4 linked regions of the Homo sapiens genome follow. The protein of the gene in region 2 interacts with the protein of the main gene of each other region in a pairwise test. Each region holds a gene or a part of one and is shown on either strand. Other genes may lie near its edges.

What was found.
Region 1: the proteins of LCK (region 2) and KIT interact in binary tests that used the Homo sapiens proteins (3 or more experiments, as listed by UniProt).
Region 3: the proteins of LCK (region 2) and GAB1 interact in binary tests that used the Homo sapiens proteins (3 or more experiments, as listed by UniProt).
Region 4: the proteins of LCK (region 2) and ASB9 interact in binary tests that used the Homo sapiens proteins (3 or more experiments, as listed by UniProt).

What each region holds. Positions count from the first base shown.
Region 1 is NC_000004.12:54,737,946-54,741,255, reverse strand, and holds the end of KIT (mast/stem cell growth factor receptor Kit isoform 1 precursor), read right to left. Parts: intron 2,828-3,310; coding exon 2,699-2,827; 3' UTR 541-2,698; downstream 1-540. UniProt on the Homo sapiens protein: Tyrosine-protein kinase that acts as a cell-surface receptor for the cytokine KITLG/SCF and plays an essential role in the regulation of cell survival and proliferation, hematopoiesis, stem cell maintenance, gametogenesis, mast cell development, migration and function, and in melanogenesis.
Region 2 is NC_000001.11:32,275,265-32,282,315, reverse strand, and holds part of LCK (tyrosine-protein kinase Lck), read right to left. Parts: intron 6,996-7,051; coding exon 6,897-6,995; intron 6,748-6,896; coding exon 6,644-6,747; intron 6,403-6,643; coding exon 6,253-6,402; intron 5,980-6,252; coding exon 5,827-5,979; intron 5,710-5,826; coding exon 5,530-5,709; intron 2,646-5,529; coding exon 2,569-2,645; intron 2,476-2,568; coding exon 2,322-2,475; intron 2,238-2,321; coding exon 2,106-2,237; intron 1-2,105. UniProt on the Homo sapiens protein: Non-receptor tyrosine-protein kinase that plays an essential role in the selection and maturation of developing T-cells in the thymus and in the function of mature T-cells. Plays a key role in T-cell antigen receptor (TCR)-linked signal transduction pathways.
Region 3 is NC_000004.12:143,437,864-143,444,914, reverse strand, and holds part of GAB1 (GRB2-associated-binding protein 1), read right to left. Parts: intron 6,917-7,051; coding exon 6,315-6,916; intron 5,114-6,314; coding exon 5,028-5,113; intron 4,837-5,027; coding exon 4,533-4,836; intron 1-4,532. UniProt on the Homo sapiens protein: Adapter protein that plays a role in intracellular signaling cascades triggered by activated receptor-type kinases. Plays a role in FGFR1 signaling. Probably involved in signaling by the epidermal growth factor receptor (EGFR) and the insulin receptor (INSR).
Region 4 is NC_000023.11:15,243,474-15,246,121, forward strand, and holds the end of ASB9 (ankyrin repeat and SOCS box protein 9), read right to left. Parts: intron 1,158-2,648; coding exon 1,033-1,157; 3' UTR 514-1,032; downstream 1-513. UniProt on the Homo sapiens protein: Substrate-recognition component of a cullin-5-RING E3 ubiquitin-protein ligase complex (ECS complex, also named CRL5 complex), which mediates the ubiquitination and subsequent proteasomal degradation of target proteins.

The sequences.
Region 1 (3,310 bases), on a different chromosome or scaffold from region 2:
ACACAATTCCCTCTGGATTTTAAAAGGATTCCTTTTCATTACAGGTCACTTTTCACCCCTTCCCTTTCCTTTCAGGAGACATTTCTGCAGGTGTAGATGTCACGTCAATAAAGACAGTCATGACTGAGGGTGTGTGGGTGCCTCATTCTTAATAAGATTATGTGATTCAGGGTGCTTCCTTTTGTTTCAAGCTGAAGAACTCTCAGCCTCTGTTTGGGTTCCAGTGGTCTGGACGGTACCAATTGGGCATGCATAATGTTTCACCCACATGACAGCACCCAGCTCATACATACTAAGCACCTTCTCTGTATCTATTTTTCAATTTAAATAGAGACCTCAGGTTGTAAGACTAAAATGAGAAAATATCACACGTATGAAAATTCTTAATATCTGTTGAATCTCGAAGCATGTAAATCCTAGCGTGATCTGATAGCCCTGCACATATTTTATGAAAACTGCGTACAAAACTTTGTCAGGATGATTGCACTTTAATGCTTTAAAGTTTAATCTCAACGAATCTCAACAATCAAATGACTCCACTTGATTTATATATGTACATTTTATTAGAATTCTTCAGAACTGTCAACAATTGGACAACATACAGGAATAAAACACGTGGAACACCAACATCCTTTAAACTTACGCCGCTTATGTATTTACACATAAAGTTACTGTATATATAAAAAATATTTTCAAGGACTCATGGGCTTGGGAATATTCAAAAGACATTATTGCTACATTTCAATATTTACAAAAAAAGCCACAAAATAATTTCAAACATTAAGCCACTGCAAAGAAACATCTGATGTAAGAAAAAATTATAAAAATATAAACTTTCAAGAATATCCAAGACAAAACTCTCAATGAAGTGCCCCTGAAGTACCTAGACATCTATAACTAACAACCACTTTTCTTACTATCATTGAAGTCAATAGAAACACAAAGGAATTTTTCAGACAAAGTATGGCAAACAACAATCTCTTGGGTGACAACACAACCCCAAAATCTGTTAACTTTGGAAAGGTGCGAGAGCATAGAACTCCAGTGCAAATGGTTACTTCCAGATAACGGCCACAGTTCTCTAAATGTAGTCTAAGAAATGTAGAAGGGGGAAACCATAAAGGCAACATACCTGAATCTTTCAAGACAACACACAAACTCTGCCATGTACACATTTGCCTTTTATATTGGGCAGTGAGGAAGGGGAGTTTTTTGTTTTGTTTTGTTTTGTTTTTAAAGAGGTAAACTACAAGAATAATATCCAGGCTACAGTCTAAAGGGTAAAATTTAAATGTTTCAGTGAGACAGTAGCATTATGGAAGGTCTAAGGAACAGGTACAGTAAGATGAGTCTAAATAACAGAGTGCCTTAAGTGCAGGTGAACTGCAAATACATAGGGACTGATGCCTTCCACTTCCTCTGCACCACTATGGAAGCTTCTGGTAAGCTACTCTAGACAGCTATGTGAAAAGAAACAAGAGCAGTACTAATAATGAAAGCCAAGTTACTTTTCAGGTACTAAAGGACCCTCTTGGACTCAGGGCAAAAATACCCCTCCAAATATTTGTCTACACACATACAAACGTACATACACATATATAGATACTGGCCCGGTGTCCAGGACATGCCTGCGAAGGAGGCTAAACCTATACTTTATTTCCTGCTACATAAGAATCCAAACTAAGATGGCAGTGTTTTCCCACTCCTGTGGGAGCCATGCAGTGAATCAGTAACTTTGTCAAACAGCATCAAATCCATTGAGTACAATGCCATTCTGAAGCTGATAGGCTTGTTCCACAGAATCTACAGAATAAGTTCATCAGCTAAAAGAGGAGATTTTGTTCAAACTGTGCTTTGTGGTTATATTGTTTCCTTAAAAAATGGTATTAACTGTTTCCTTCAAACTTATATGGCTCTTAATCTACTTCTATACACAGTGGACATAATGCCAGGGTTGTATACAGAAACGAAACCTTATGGTGTTTTCCCCTCAAATGTATGAACACGGACAATTTATAGATGCGTATATACAAGTGCTGGCTAGGGAGGCCTTCTCTCCAATTCAATGCTCTAATAGCAAACTCTATTTAAAAACCAGGTCGGTAGTATAAAAGCTCATGCAGTGGTCCACAGAAGAGCATCTTTTGTTCACACTTGGGGATCATTTTTTTCATGGCCTATGTCTCATTCCCAGCATGAAATACTAGATTTCTTAAGCCCAGGTGTTCATACTCTGTCCTTTGTTCTAATGATGTTCTGTTTTCCACATAAAGGACTTAGGTTTTCAGCTTCTAATCTTGTATCATCATACTACTATGGATGGTTCTGAAGGCCAACTGTGATTACTACCATTTATTCAGGTAAACTATCAACCATATTTTTGGGCAGAATTGGAGAAGCCTTGGAAAGGACTCTGGCCCCCAGTCCATACCTCCCTCTCTTTTTCCAAATCAGAATGTTTTCTGTTCATGGTAGAAGCTACGTTGCTATTGGGAATATATACAGTTGGAACCTTTGCAATAGGATGGTGGCTGATGACAAAAATCATCGGCCACTAAAGTGTGCTCAGAAAGACAGGATTGCAGTGGGGTGCCCACTATCCTGGAGTTGGATGCAAGTTGAAAGAAAAGAAAATAACCATCATGGAAGCCAAAAGAAGAGATCATTCCTGGAGGGGTGACCCAAACACTGATTCTGCTCAGACATCGTCGTGCACAAGCAGAGGCTGGGAGGAGGAAGCGGTGCTGCCGACAGAATTGATCCGCACAGAATGGTCTACCACGGGCTTCTGTCGGTTGGGGCTGCAGTTTGCTAAGTTGGAGTAAATCTGGAGAAAACAAGCCCATAGTCAATACAGCAGTCCCTACAACGAACATAGCAACAAAAGGCATACTTACAGTGTCAAGATCACAACTAACTGATGGAAACTCTTAAGAGAGAAGTGGTTTCCAAGAACTTTGTGGCCAAAACCCAAGTCATACTGACAAAACAAATATAAGCTTTGTTTTCCCCCTTCATTTTTCCAAGGAAATAACTTTATACAAGAAGTGGGGACAAAACATGCACAAGCTTAGCTCTTCTAAAAGGGCACACCAGGCACCAAGCACTATCTTACCTATTTAAAAGGCTTGTAAATCTCTCCAGCAACTACAACCCAATAACCAATGTAATTTGCTGGGAAACCCACGGCCCTTCCAGGGGTCTCTTGTCAAGAATCAAAGCAACTGGGTGGAAAATGCTGTTCAATTTGAAACATGTTTTGACACCCAGAAGAACAAGCTTTAACCCAAAAATTATCAGTGGTGTGCTA
Region 2 (7,051 bases):
TATGTCAGTTGCCATTTATCATCATGCTTTCACTGCCTATTTTCTTCTAATAGATACATTCCCTATGGGTTTGCCTCTGTGGGAACCGGGAAGGAGCAGTGAGGACCCCTGGCAGGATAACTGGAGAATATTTCTGTATTTCCAGCTCCAGCACTACCCCTGGACGCTGGTTTGGGGCAAGCCCAGGGCAGGGAAGCCCCTCAGCTTTTCACCTGTTTCCAAGGTGGTTGTTTTTGTTTTTGTTTTGAAACAGAGTCTCACTTTGTCACCCAGGCTGGAGTGCGGTGGCATGATCTCAGCTCACTGCAACCTCTGCCTCCTGGGTTCAAGCAATTCTCCTGCCTCAGCCTCCTGAGTATCTAGGGTTACAGGCGCGTGCCACCATGCCCAGATAATTTTTATATATATTTTTTTTAGTAGAGACGGGGTTTCACCATGTTGGTCAGGCTGGTCTCGAACACCTGACCTTGTGATCCACCCGCCTCGGCCTCCCAAAGTGCTGGTATTACAGGTGTGAGCCACTGCATCCGGCCTTCCAAGGTGTCTTTACCTTCCTTGGAGCAAAGGTCTGTTCACCTTGCTCTGGGGATATGGGAAGCTTCTACAAATCTAGCCACTGTGCCGCATGACCCCCCTACTCCTGTCTTTATGCTCCATTTCCTTTCCCCAGAGTTTCTTAGCAAGTTCCTTTCAAAAATTCCATCCCTGTCTTGGCTGAATTCAGGGGTAAAGGGCTTTGTCCAGGAGATGGTGGGAGGAGTCAGTGTATACTGACAACCTACTATGAGTCAGGCTCTTTCACAAATGGTCTCTCATTTTTTCTTTTTTCTTTTTCTTTTTCTTTTTTTTTTTTTTTGAGACAAATTCTCTCTCTGTTGCTCAGGCTGGAGTGCAATAGAACAATCATGGCTCACTGCACCCTCAACCTCCTGGGCTCAAATGATCCTCCCACCTCAGCCTCCCAAATAGCTGAAACTACGGGTGTGTGCCACCATGCCCAGCTAATTTTTAAATGTTTTTTTTGTTTGTTTGTTTTTTTTTTTTTGTAGAGATGGAGTCTCTCTTTTTCTTGTTTTGAGACAGGGTCTTGGTCTATTGCCCTAGGCTGGAGTGTTATGGCATGGTCTTGGCTCACTGCAACCTCTGCCTCCCTGGCTCAGGTGATCCTCCCACCTCAGCCTTCTGAGTAGCTGGGACTAGAGGCACATGCCACCAAACCTGGCTAACTTTTGTTTTTGTAGAGATGGGGTTTCGACCAGTTTCCCAGGCTGGTCTCGAACTCCTGGGCTCAAGCAGTCCTCCCACCTTGGTCTCCCAAAGTTCTGAGATTATAGGCATAAGCCACTGTACCTGGCCTAGTCTCTTATTTTTAGTATCAGGAAACTGAGGCTTAGAGAAGTGAAGTGACTAGCTTCACTAGTTACAGTAATGATCTGAACAAAGCCAAACAGAAAGTTAGCAACAGTGGCAGATCTGCTGATAAAAGGTAGGCCTCTTGTTCCTGAGCTAGATCTTCTTCTACCATACCAGGCTGCCTGGGCCAGAACTAAAGAAAAGAGCTGGGGCCGGGTGTGGTGGCTCACGCCTGTAATCCCAACACTGGGAGGCCGAGGCAGGCCAATCACGAGGTCAGGAGATTGAGGCCATCCTGGCTAACATGGTGAAACCCTGTCTCTACTAAAAATACAAAAAATTAGCTGCGCATGGTGGCACGTACCTGTAATCCTAGCTATTTGGGAGGCTGAGGCAGGAGAATCACTTGAACCCAGGAGGCAGAGGTTGCAGTGATCCAAGATGGCGCCACTGCACCCCAGCCTGGGAGACAGAGCAAGACTCCGTCTCAAAAAAAAAAAAAAAAAAAAAAAAAAAAAAGAAAAAGAAAAAAAGAGAAAAAGAAAAGAGCTGGGGTTATTAAAGAGAGATACGGAGATGGAAGCCAGCCCTGGGAGATGTGGCATCTGCCTGGGGACGTTGGACTCATACCCCTGAGAAGATAGAGGAGATGCAGCTACAAAGTTTCAGATTCTGAGACTGGAAAGAATTGAATGGGAAGACATGGACTTGCCCTTCCCATCACCCTTTCAGTTCCTGCCCTTGGCTCTAACCTGGGTAAGGGATGCGGCCGTGGGTGACAATTTCCGTCAGCAGGATCCCAAAAGACCACACATCTGACTTGATGGTGAATGTCCCGTAGTTAATGGCTTCTGGCGCTGTCCACTTAATGGGAAACTTGGCCCCTAAGGAGGAGGCAGAGTGAGGTCACCTGGGTCTGCTTGGCCAGACCCTGCAGGGCCCAGACCACCCTTAAATCTCACACGTACCCTCCCTGGCTGTGTACTCGTTGTCCTCAATGAGGCGTGCTAGGCCAAAGTCTGCAATCTTGCAGCTCAGGGTGTCAGACACCAGAATGTTGGCAGCCCGAAGGTCACGATGAATATAATTCCGCTCTTCAATGAATGCCATGCCTTCTGCAATCTGCAGGCCAAACACAGATCAGCGGTCCTGAGCCAGATGTCTTCACGTCACTGGTCTGTTCCCTTGCCCAGCCCCCCTCCCCAGTCTCCTTACTTGGGCTGCCATGTCCAGGAGTTTGTTGATGGTCAACTTGATGCCTGAAGGGGTCTTGAGAAAATCCACTAGACTCCCTGTGGGCAGAAGCAAGAGTTGCTGGCCCAAGTTGCCCCAGGGGGAGGCCCCCAGACCTTTCTCCTCCAACTGGGAGTCTAGAAGTGTGTCTGACATGTGAAAAGGAAGATTGAAGAGTGAGAATGGAGGAGTGTGTGTTCAGGGTAAGGATGCCCAGGATATGTAAAGGTTTTTTTGCAGAGGGGCTAGGGTAGAGCATGCTGGGAGGGATCTGTAGGTTTTTCATCACCAATAAGGTAGAACCTAGAATCCTCAACTAGTATCCTAAGCTTGGCATGGTCCACACTGGTAGCTTCTTCTCTTTCCCCCACTCTGCCTTTGACTTCAAACAGTTTAGCAATTTTGAGATCCTGCACTCAGACCACTAGGCTCTCACCCCAAAGCCTCTTTGTTTCATCTCTGCCTGCTAAAAAAAATTCTACTTTTCTTTCGTGGCCCTGCTAGACTGCCCCACTAGGAAGCCTCTCTAGATCCTACCAGGCATAATAAACTGGATCATCATCTACACTCCCATGGGCATGCTGGAACTTTCCCATGGCACAAACTCTGGTTTCCCCAGTAGCTGTAACTAAAATCAGGTTTCCCTGACAACAGGAACCTTGTTTCATCCATCCATGTTCCTGGTGCCCAGCCGAGAGTAAGAAACAATAACTATGTGCTGAATATATTGGATGGAATAAGAAAGAGGGGGTCTGGGGGTCTGAGGGACCACCTCTCTAATAGTGGAGGGCAGCTGGACATGGATGGGAGTTGCTAGGATGCAGTGAGTGACCAATGGCCCTTCCCAAGAGATTAAAACCCTGTAAAAGGATGACAGCAACCTGAGTGTCCCCACTTTGAGTGCTGAACTAGTTACCAAAGACAAAGACCTCACCTACACACAGCAAATACATAGACATAGATATACTGCCATTCTTCCATTGTATCCATGGCAGATGTTACTAATCATTCCTGGCACTCACTTCCAATGAACCTCAGAATCCTTCTCCAGCACTACAAGCAACTACCAATCAAAGTCGATACACATGATAGGCTGGGCATGGTGGCTCACATCTGTAATCCCAGCACTTTGGGAGGCCAAGGCGGGAGGATCACCTGAGGACAGGAGATCGAGACCAGCCTAGCCAACAAGGCGAAAACCTGTCTCTACTAAAAATACAAAAATTAGCCAGGCATGGTGGCACATGCTTGTAGTCCCAGCTACTTGGGAGACTGAGGCATGAGAATCATTTGAACCCAGGAGGGGGAGGCTGAAGTGAGCCGAGATCATGCCACTGCACTCCAGCCTGGAGGACAGAGTGAGACTCAAAAAAAAAAAAGATACACATGACATAATCTATTTGCCATTTCCCATTAGCCAATGAACAGCTTGTTTCTCTTCCTGAAAAAAGGATAGATCTTACACTCCCAAAGAATCAGAGCCAGATAACAGCAACAAACTTATTGATCAGTTACTATATGGTAGCCATAGTTTTGTGGGTTTTTTGTTTTGAGACAAGGTCTCGCTCTGTTACCCAGGTTGGAGTGCAGTGGTGCAATCACAGCTCAGTGCAGCCTCAACCTCCTGGGCTCAAGTGATCCTCCCACCTCAGCCTCCCAAGTAGCTGGGACTACAGGCATACACCACTATGCCCAGCTAATTTTTAAACATTTTTTTGTAGGAATGAAGTCTCGCTATGTTGCACAGACTGGTCTTGAACTTCTGGGCTCAAGTGATCCACCCACCTTGGCCTCCCAAAGTGCTGGAGTTATAGGCTTGAGCCACAGCACCTGGAAGTAGGCATAGTTCTAACTGCTCTGTATGCATTAATTATTTCATCCTCACAAGACCCTGTGAGGAAGTTACTAACGCGTTATTATAGTAGGAAACCATGGCAGAAAGAGGTGATATAATTATCACAAAGCCATAAAATCATGAAGCCAGGCTTCTGACCCAGGCAGTCAGACTCTAGAGGCCTTGATGAATACTCTGTATTATTTCTGGTGAGCCCATTTAGATTTCTGCTGTTATACTTGGGGAAACTGAGCACCAGAGACAGTGCAGGCACTTGGCCTGTCACACGGCAAATCGGTGTGAACAAAGCTGAAGCTAGAAACTCATATTCCTCTTCCTGGGGCTCTCACTCTGTCCAGTAACAGACCAAGAGGGGTGCAGGGGTGGGGGTCTCACTCAGAACTGAAAAAGAGGGCTTTGGGGGCAGATCTGCCCTCCTAGGGCTCAGGGGCAGAAGGGAGAGAAACAGGGCTAGGGACCCACTTGCTTTCTGAGATCAAGCATCCTGAGATCAAGGTAGGGCTTTGAAGAAGGCAAACAGAATGGCAGGTCAGGGAAGGTTGGGGTGAATGCTCTTCCAGAACATTCTTGCCACCTTAGGCTTGCCCCCAGACAGGATCAGATCAGAGGATACACCTTTTTCTCATGCCTGGAGGTGAGTCTTTTTTTTTTTTTTTTTTTTGATAGAGTCTTGCTCTGTCACCCAGGCTGGAGTTCAGTGGCATGATCTCAGCTCACTGCAACTGTAGCCTCCACCTCCCGGATTAAAGGGATTCTCCTGCCTCAGTCTTCTGAGTAGCTGGGATTACAGGCATGTGCCACCACACCTGGCTACTTTTTGTATTTTTAGTAGAGACAGAGTTTCACCATATTGGTCAGGCTGGTCTCGAACTCCTGACCTCGTGATCTGCCCGCCTCGGCTCCCAAAGTGCTGGGATTACAGGCCTGAGCCACCGCGCCCGGCTGGAGGTGAGTCTCCAGGGGGCAGGAAAGCTCAAGAAACCCTCCTTGCTTGAGCTTTGGGCCAGAAGAAAAGGTGTATTTCCACCCTCTGGCAGGGACAGCAGGGAGAGCAGTATCCCCTGGTAGCCGACTCGGGTAGCACCCACCATTCTCCATGTATTCAGTGATGATGTAGATGGGCTCCTGGGTGACCACAGCGTAGAGCCGAACCAGCCGCTGGTGTTGCAGCTGCTTCATGAGGTTGGCCTCGGCCAGGAAGGCGTCCGGGGACATGCTGCCCTGCTTCAGGCTCTTCACCGCCACCTTCGTGTGCCCGTTGTAGTACCCTGGGTCGGGGAAGGGAAGGAGTGGGAAAGTCGCCAGGCAGCTGTCCTGGGACTCTCATCACCTCAGCGGCCCCTCCCGTTCCCCTCTTCCCAGGCAGTCCTGGAGGCCACACTCACCCATCCACACCTCCCCGAACTGTCCAGCCCCCAGCCGCTCCACCAGCTTCAGCGTCTCCCTGGGAACCTCCCACTCGTCCTCCCACCACGGCTTCTGGGGCTTCTGGGTCTGGCAGGGGCGGCTCAACCGTGTGCACAGCCCATCTGAAGCATCTGCGAGGACGAGGGAGGGGTGAAGGCTGTCAATAGGGCAGGCCTCGTATTGACACCACCTCCCCCACTTCTCCAAGCCCCCATCTAGGTGAAGTGGACTAGCAAGGGGGTGTGGGGCTGTCACCCAAACACTTGGGGCCGTAGGGTCAGGTTCCACACCTCACCCACTGCGGGGAATGGAGTAGGGCATTGAAAGATGGATGGGGGACACCTGAGGGGGACTGAGGGGAGATAGGCTGATAGGGCACGGGGGAGGGGTCCCGTCGGGCTCACTGGTGTAATGGCGGACCAGTTCATGCAGGCCGGGAAAAGTGATTCGAGGGGAGATGTAGAAGCCACCGTTGTCCAGATTACGGATCTTGTAATGTTTCACCACCTCTCCCTGGTTCTGGTCGAAGTCCCGGACCGACAGTGAAAACGATCCTGAATGAATGAATGGATGGACAAAGCGACGAAAGAACGCAGTGAGTCTGGCCCGCCACCGCGCCCCCACCTTGGGCTCACCCAGCACCCCCAACTCCGGGTCATCCCGCGCCCCCACCTCGGGCTCATCCCGCGTCCCCCTCCGACTCACCCCGTGTCTCCACCTCGGGCTCACCCTGCGCCCCCCCTCGGGCACACCCCGGGGCACCCCCGCGCCCGGTCGAGACCGCCGCCCGCTCACCCGCGGTGCTCTCGCTCTCCCGGATGAGGAAGGAGCCGTGAGTGTTCCCGGGCGCCAGGAGCTGCCGCTCCGCGTCCTTGCGGCTCAGGTTCTTGAAGAACCAGCTGTGCAGGGCGGAAGCGAACGAAGGCCGTCGGCTGTCGTCGGATCTTCCTCCGTGGCCCTCAAGCCTTCACCGCCACCCCAGGCCTACTCCCTGCTCCAGGATCCCTAGATCTGCTCCTACCCACCCCCACGACGGGTCCCCACTTACGGTTCGGGCTCCAGGCTGTTCGCTTTGGCCACAAAATTGAAGGGGATGAAGCCTTCCTGGCCCGTGGTCAGGGACTGCGCCTTCCACCACTCGCCGCTCCTGCGCCACGGAGGTGGGTCAGTGTGGCTCGCTCAGCCGTCGACCTGAGACCCTCC
Region 3 (7,051 bases), on a different chromosome or scaffold from region 2:
CACAGATGCAGGTGGAGGCCATTATCCTAAGGAAATAAACGCAGGAACAGAAAACCAAATATCACATGTTCTCACTTACAAGTGAGAGCTAAACATGGACATAAAGATGGCAACAACAGACACTGGGTACTACCAGAGAGGGGAAGGAGGCAGGTGGAAAGGGTTGAAAAACTAACGATTGGGTGCTATGTTCAGTTCCTGAGTGACAGGATCATTCATACCCTAAATCTCAGCATCGCACAATATACACAGGTAACAAACCTGCACATGCACCCCCCTAAAACTAAAATAAAAATTGAAATACAAAAGAATAAAAATTTTAAAAAGTGCATGTTAATTTTTAATCACATTCAGAAACTTTAAAAGATCTCTTGAAAAAATGTTTAGAGCAAATCCATCACTGTGCCAAAAGAGTCACCCAGGGAAACTCTCAGGATTAGTCTTCTGTATGCTCCCCACACAATATTAAGGATCTAAGCTTGAAGGTACTTTAACCAAAGTGGTGTATAAAAACACCATACAAAACCTTGCACTGGCTTAACAAAAAAAAGTCAGTATAGTAACTAATGTTCAGACTGTTGCAGAAAGGCGTGAATGGACAAGGCCAAACATAACAACATAAAGACAGCATGTGGGGCTCACACAGCTGCTGCATCATGCTAGACAGAGACTAGACAGAGATGGGGGCCTTAGATAAGTTTAGCGATTTAATATACTAGATTTATGTCATGACATAAAGAGAAGCTATAACAGATAAATTTCCCAAACTTTACAAAACTCCCTTTCCATCAGAAATATAAAATTTTCAATTGAAGAGGTCAAAATATAATTTGTCCTGTATTTCCAGTGACTCATCTGCTTTCCCAATATTTAATACAGTATGCTTAAAATACGTTTCTCTTAATACACACAAAACTTGGCTCAAAACAAACACTACAGTGACAGAAATAGTATGATGAAAATATCACTATCATGAATTGAGTGACAGGCAAAGGGTCTAAGATAATTATGTTTAAGTGTTCAGAACATCTATGTATTTCTGCAGTTTCAATTACTCATAAGTATTTGAAAAGCTCATCTGTATGCAAACTACAGCAGCTGACATCTATAATTGGGGCTATAAACAAGACTAGAATGTTACTGGTTTCTTATAGATCCTTCCAAAGACAATCTCAAAAACCAGACATATAGGGCAATGAACTAGTTATATGGAGCTCTGAAACTAATCAAGCCATATTTTATAGAATTAGATTTGCTTATAATGAGTTTTATATAAGAGATACTGAATAATAGATTAAGTCATTTATCTGATGTCATGAAATTTGAAATTAAAATAGATTCATCTGATGCTATGAATACTGAGAAAAATTATAGGACCAAACGAGACATTATTTTTGTTTAAGTGTTTGTGGATAAACTTTGCTTTGAGATCTGAATTTGGATTTTAAAATGTGTTTTTCTTGAAGTTATAACTTTGTAAAGTGAGTTTATGAAGTCATAACTTTGTAAAGTGAGTTTACAAAGTCTGCCTTGTAATGTTAAATACATTCTCAAGCCTCCTCTCCTGTATCATAACTATTTAAAAAGTAGAATAGTACAGGCCGGGCACAGTGGCTCACGCCTGTAATCCCAGCACTTTGGAAGGCCGAGGCAGGTAGATCCCGAGGTCAGGAGGTCGAGACCATCCTGGCTAACACGGTGAAACCCCGTCTCTACTAAAAATACAAAAAATTAGCTGGGCGTGGTGGCAGGTGCCTGTAGTCCCAGCTACTCGGGAAGCTGAGGCAGGAGAATGGCGTGAACCCCAGAGGCGGAGCTTGCAGTGAGCCGAGATCGCGCCACTGCACTCCAGCCTGGGCAACAGAGCGAGACTCTGTCTCAAAAAAAAAAAAAAAAAAAAGTAAAATAGTACTAAAGAAAAGTAAATTTTTTTTGAATACTATGACTTCAGGAACCTCTTTACTGTTTTGCTAAGTCTATTCTTGATTCTGGCAAAAACTATATGGGTATTTCAATCTGGGTGCTCTTTTTAAGTTCATTTTGTATCTAAGCAAATATGCCAAATAAATAATGTGGCCAACGAACTCACAATTGTCTCTGAACAGTTCAGTTAAATTTTAAAAGAATGAACACAATCTCCAGAAATAAGAACCTACTTTATTCTGTTCTATTAAGTTCTTTTACGTTAAAGAACTAGTGTGATTAGTCTCTAGTGTACTAGAATAATAGTACTTTCACTAAATACATAGGGATGTATAATTATAAAATATGTAGTATACATGATACATAGTATATATTCTGATATATACATAAAATATATATCATAATAATGTGGGATACATGAGTGATATCAGACCTAGAGGATACTAAAAGCTAATCATTAATTGATCTTAGGTCTTTTCTAACTTATAAACAGTGGTGTTTCCTGATTTCATATTATGCTTACCACATGGAATCACAACTGTTGAAATATACTGGAGTTTTCAAACTGTGCTCTACAGAGCTCAAGGGGAGAAAAGAGCAGCAGAGGAGCAAGGGAGGTAGGACTTAAAAGCTTTGTAACCTCACCCAAATCTTACTCCCTCCACATTTATGCGAGACCTCAAAATATAAAACTGTTAGGTTTGGAGTTAAAAAGTAGAGATCTGCCACTAACATGCACTCGTTACTGGAAAATAAGGAAAGCACCAGTTTAACATTAAAAAAGATATTTCAATATTTCAAAGAGTTCATGACACTTATATCTCAATCCTTCAGTGATCTGTATGAACCAATTATAAAGCTATACATGTCCAAACATATTTTTGCATATTATATGCAAAGAAAATGACTAGTAGTTGTCTAAAATAGATTTAGAGACAAAGAAAAAGGAAACAAAAGGAAGCATTATCCGATAGAAAGCCTCTGATGCTCACATCCTTTCTGAGATCCACACCGCAATCACAGCCCTGCTGCCAGGGCAGACTGGGTCGTCGTGGGTGTGACACACATAGACCAATCACATCATCTCTAAGCAATCTAAAGTGAGTAAATAATAAGTAAGGCAATGAGAAGCTGATGCAGAAGCTGCAAGGGCACATAAAAAGCAGCTAGGAGGCAGAACTGAGGCCATAGAAGGGGAGCATTGGAGGCCAAAGCTCTTGGAAAGCAGAATCCATTTAAGTAGAGGATACAGAGTAAGAAAACAAAAAAGAATCAGAAAAGAAAACAGAAAAGAAGGGAAGAATGTGAAAGAGAACAAACCAGATGCAAAGATTTCCCATAAAACAGAAATGCACAGAGAGAGCAGGACACAGCAACAGTCCCCTAGAATTGCTTCAGTTCCTGATAACCTCCTTGTTGAAGGAGGTTAACCTCCTGTTGAAACGAGGAGGTTATCCTTACTTACAAACAAAACCAAATCTTTTTTCTTAAGATAGTCTGAGCCTCAGTCTCTTTTCCTCACAACTAGGACTTAATTAGAACTAATATTAATGATCTAAGCCCAGGTTAAGGAGAAATTGATGCCAACATTATGTGGTCTTAAAAAGCTACATATAGCACATGAGACTTTTCAAATGTGCTGAAACACCCTAATGTAAGCCAGATATTGTATCATTCATCACATTTACATTTATGCTAATTTACTTGGTTGTCAAGATTAAGCCACACTAACAGCATGGTGCAACAAATCAAATTGTCTGTGTTTTAACAACTTAAACCCCAATTTAAAAAACCTGGGTAGGCATTACCCAATTTGGCTGAACAGTTTCTTTTACAGACTTCTTAACAAACTATGTTACCTTAGAACTTAATGTTACTTATGAAGGCCAGCATGGAAAAAAAAATGACAGACTAGAAGCATGTATTACCCCAGCAAAGGCAAAGTAATTTTTAAGAAGTTGTTATATGAACAGAATGGAAAGATTATACAGTCTCACTGTTCTTAAATAATTATGTCAAATACATTAATAATCTTAAGTCTGATTTGATATTATATACTCTGGAGAAGAGGTTACTAAATAGCAGCTGAAGGCCATTATCTAGCTTGCAGAAGTGTTTGGGTTGGCCTGCAATGTTTTCTTAATAATTAAATTAGTTGATAGAACTTTAAAAATTGAGAGATAATACATATAAAATCTGAAATCTCTGGCTTTTCCTGATATACCAGAAGATTTGCCTGCATGGGTGCATCATTTCACAAGTCAACAAAGGATTGTAGCAGTGTAGGTTAGTTACTCCCATTAGATGGGGCTACGGCAGTCCAGTTTCTTCTAATTCTCCCCAGTTGTCCGCTCACCCCGTGAGTATTTCAGCTTGTAACCTCTGCTCTAGAGATAGGAGACTTATAAATATCACCTCACATCAACATGTGATATCATAATTGTTAATTTATAAATGGCAGTACTGCTTTGCTTAAATAACTTGATGGCTATGGAACTATGAAATATTTCAGAATTTCTAGTCCAAATTCTATTTTGGATTTAATGGCAGTTAAAGATAGATCTAACTTGGCACTCCCCAAGCCTTTTACTTTGCCATGCTCTCCTTACCTTTTCTGTCTGGCTTGAGGTTCCTATCCACGGGGGGTGGTTCACAGTCTGCAACAGGAACTGGCCTTCTGGGAGGGGTTTTTGGGCTGGACCTGAAGCCCATATGAGCAGGAGGAGGAACTTGCATTCCAAATGAGGAAAAATCAAATGTTCCTGGAGTCATTGGCACATAATTTGCTTCCTGAATTGGTTCTGTAAAACTGCTGGAATGTTGTCGTGGTGGTGAATTGGGATTCATTGGGACGTAATTTTCATCCAGTTCTTCACTTGAAACACTTCCCACTGTCAACACATTTTTGACTTTCTAAAACACATATATATTTCTTTTAATAAACAAAAACTCTTGTCACACATGAAAACACAATTGTAAGTCACACTCATTCATATGGATCTCAGCGTACTTTTATTTCATGATATCACTTAGTCTCATGGCACTAATTATGAAGATTTAGACAATGAAATACACTTGATGATGCCAAGGTCAATTATACTTACAAAGTGGTTATGGAAGCCTTCAAGTGAACTAGATCTATCACTTGGAAATGCTCGTGGAATATCATAGCAGTCTTGAGAACTAGCATCTAAAATAAAGAACAAACTATCAACATTTATTCCCATCTTTGCCAGCTCTCAGGGTCATTGGGATGACCTATTATCTTTCTCTCATTATACATATGCATACACACATGCACACACACAGAATTTTAAAAAGGATGCTCATAGAACTGTGTCTTGAATTGGCATATTAAACCACTAGAAAATGCAGACACTCACTCATATGCTAACCAATACCAATATCTAATTTTGAGTGTGAGTGAATGTCTAAGTCTGGGATAAGATAGGTTATCTAAAGATGAAGAGAAACACCTCTATTTTCTCATCGTTTGCACCACCTTGGGCATAACTTACATCTCACTAACTGATAACCAGGTTATACAGTCACTTCAAGAAAGGAGTTAGATACTGTTATTGAATGGTGAAATAAGTACTGATTTAAGTAATAATCACAGATACATTAAAATCTTGGAGATAGCTGAGGAAAACTCTACCACAAAATACAGAAATTTTAGCACATACTGTTTAGGATATGTGCATTAAAAACTTTAGCTTTCTATTTGTAGGACTTTGAGAATCTCAGAGAATCACCCAGACTCATTTTTTTCTTCTCCTCTCAAGGTCTGTAACTTTTGGATACAGACTCTAGGAGACAGTATAGGAAAGTATACTCACTAGCAATGAGTGAAGTGGGTAGTGATAAGGGGAAAGAAGATTCAGCTCTTTAAACACAAGTAAAAATCAAACAGCATAATGGCTTGACTGGAACAGAATATCACCTGTTAGACACAACATAAAAACTGCTTATATAGGAAGGAAGGAAATAGAGCCCAACAGATGTGACTTAGAAGCGGCCATAATGGCACACAAATACAGGAAAGGGTATGACTCGGAGAGGCTTTGTGGCTGGTCCATTTCCTGCCCTTCTGTCCCAACAGAGGGCCTATCCACCCAGGATTATAGAAAGTGGGAGAGAGAAGGGCACACTTCCTGAGGCAGGAAGGCATTACTAAGGCCATACTTCTTCAGGGGTGAGAAACTCCAACTCTTTTTCCCTTCCAGCAGAGCATGAATGCAATATACCCTTCCAGGTAGCTGTAGAGCTGGAAAAAAATGGACTGTATTTTGTAGCATAGTATATTTAACTACGCTTAAAAGAACAAATATTCAGAAAAATCGATTTTCTATCATTAACCTCTAATAGAGAAGAAGTCAACTAGAGCTGACCTTTTCGCAATTTGTTTAAATCCACAGTGGAAATGGTATTACTACGTGAAGGCGACATCCCTGCTGTAGGGATACAGTAACTACTGTCAGTGTCTGAGGCGGTGCGTGGGATACTACACGTTTCCACAGGAGATCGGTCATGAGCTGGATGTGGTTTCGGTGGCCGAGGTGGAGGAATATCTGGAATAGTGTCTAGCTTTGATGTCTGTCCCAAGGTTCCTTCTGGAAATGTTCGTGGAATCTGATAAGTATTACCAGGTGTTGGAGGAATGTCATAACTAATAGATACATGCCTCATTTGAGTCTCTACACTCGATGTCCCAGATGGGGTATTAAAAACATAGAGTTCTCCATCTGCTTCAGTACTTGATGGAGACACCTTTGGTAAAACATCATGGGAATAACTCCTGGGCAGGTTATAAAGGCTGGAGTCAACTGAAGCAGATGGGGCACGTGAAGGTGGAGAGTCGTATATCATTTGCTGCTGAAAAAAGCCATTCATTCCATGTTTGCTCTGGGAGGAAGCAGGATTTTTATGAGAAGGGACGTTATCATTGCAGTCTGTTTCAGAAGAGGTGGATTTTGCAGAATCAGCATGCGTTCTAAATAAAAATTGTTAATGACAGAATAAACAAGGTGGAGACTAAGAATACATTTTTTATAAACATGTTTATCGCTAAGCAATCAAAAGATAGGGCTTTTCTCATTAGATTTTTTGTGTGATCCATAGGATTTAA
Region 4 (2,648 bases), on a different chromosome or scaffold from region 2:
GCAATAATCTGTACCTGCACTGTTCAATACAGTAGCCACTAGCCATTTGTGCATATTTTATACCTGAAATGTGGCTAATGACACTGAGAAACTGGATTTTTAATTTTACCTAATTTTAATTAATTTACACTTCTAAATAGGCACATGGCTACAGCAGGGTTTCTCAACCTGGGCACTACAGTATTAACAGTTTGGACTGGAAAGTTCTTTGCGGTGGGGCTGTCCTGTACATTGTAAGAGGCTTTGCAGCATTCCAGACCTCTACCCACTACATGCCTGTAGCACCCCTCCTCAGTTGTCACAAACAAAATGTCTCCAGTTATTGTTAAACATCACTGGGTAACAAAATTAACCCCAGTGGAGAACCACTGAACTAGTTGCTACTGTATTAAGCAGCAAGGTTCTAGAATATGCTTAATATGTATAGTGTTTTGGTTGAAAAAAAGAACTGGCGCCCACACTATGCTAGGACAGTAGTGGTTTTGTTGTAACAACAGGGAAGCTTAAAACAAATTAGACAAGCCAAGAAATATGTTTCTTTATTTTCATTCCCATATAGCAGAGATGGAACCAGGACAGTGATGCTGGAAAAGCCTGCCTCGATCAAGTCATCACATAAGTTAATGTCAGAAAACCTGTATTTGAATTTGACTCCTCTATCCTTACTCTGGAAAATTGGACATCTTGACCCAGTGGCTGTGAGGGCTAAATTAGATGATGCAGAAAGTGCTTGGCATGCAGTAGATATGCAAAACAATAACTTATGACACTCTCCATGCAGGGAAAAAAGTCTTCATGCCTTCTAACTAATAATACAAACGTATGCAGTGTCTTTCAACCCTGGCTTGAGTTTAACAAATACAAATTGAATAGAAAAAATTAGTCAAACTCCATAAACAAGTTTATAACAAATACAAATCTAATCGAAAAAACTAGTCAAACTCTATAAATCCAACTTGATTTTAAAATTCTAGTGGCTACAACACTCAATAATGTTTTCACATCGTTTGTGAATCCATTCCCTAGATGCATTTAAAGATGTAGGAGAAACTGTTTCAGATCCTCTGGGAGGACGAGTTTGGTTATCTTATGATGCTGCTGGATTCCAAAACACTTCCGAATTCTAAGGCGGCATAACTGCATCAAAGAAGGGGGCCCTGGAGAAAGATCATAAGACAAGTCATACAATGGTGCTATTGATCTAAGACTCCTTTTTTTTAAAAAAAAAAAGCATCCAAGATAGAACATTGTTATAAGGAAATAATATTGAACTATTTAAGACCATTTTCTGGGGTTTTTTTGTAGAAGGCATTTTTAGGCTATGTTCTCTCTTTTCCGGTAGCTAATTGAAATAAGCTTGTTAGGTTTTTAATTTAGAACAGAGTGAAAGAAATTTAAAGCTTAGCCTCACTAATGGAGGCTTAAATAAGCTAACTTGGGAATTACACAGCTATACAAAAATTCCAATAATACAAATAAAATTTATGTTTAATGGTGTTCTTTTATCTTTAAAAATAAGGGCATATTTCTAGATGCAAACATTTTTATTTTATAACTTGAGCAAATTAAGGTACTCAAAAATAATGAGCTCACAGTGAATCCTAAGAGTATGTGAAGTCGTGTTTGTTTTTACATCCTGTATTCAGAGCTATTCCAATGCTTCAATTCATAAGTGAAAAGTGAACTAGCTAGCACAAACCTTGCTTAGGGAACACCCAACAGTTTACATTTTAGGACAGTGGTTCACAACTGGGAGGAGGCTCAGGGAAGGAAAGGAGGAGGAGATCATTTTGCTCCTCAGGGGACATTTGGCAGTGTCTGGAGACATTTTTGGTTGCCAAAACTTGAGGAAGGGTGCTACTGGCATCTAATGGGAGAGGCCAAGGATGCTTCTAAAAATCCCAGAGTACACAGGACAGCCCCCAACTGATTCAAAATGTCAATAGCGTCAAGGTTGAGAAACTCTGTTATAGGGCAAAAGGATGGGGAATGATTTTCCCTGCCCCCCTACCCCTGTTCCTGCATCAAATTGTAATGGGAATCTTCTTTTGGTTATTTTTTAAAAAGCAAAACTATATACCCTCAAGAACTCCATAAAGCCGTAGCCCTCAATCCAGGTAGCACTTCAGACTCACCTGGGGTGGGGGTACATTCAACTACATGGACGCTGAGTCCCCCCAACCAGGGATGTTGCTTCAGTTATTGTTGGGTGAAGCCCAAGCATCTGGATTTTCTAAAGGCATGTGCCCGAGGTCATCTGAGTGTGCGGTCAGGGTTGTGAATACATCCAAAAGGATACTGTGGTCTCTATTTTCCTATAGCAATACCACCAACTACAGGATCAACCGAGTTAACTTATCTCTCAAGGTGATGCAGAACAAGGAGAGATGGAACTCGACACATATACAATCAAAAAAATACTTGCAGTATTTTAAACCAGGCCCTAACAGAAGGGCCCTGTTGGAGTAAGGCACCTATGAGATGATGCCCAGTATACTCAAAGCATTTAAAAATGAACGGCTTCCCAGTGTTCTCAAGGCACATATTAACGAGCAGCAAAAAGCACACTGTGGGGAAACTGAACCTAATCTAACCTCACTAAGGAATGTTGAAACATGTGACTGATCATCTGTGCTAGAAACGCTGTC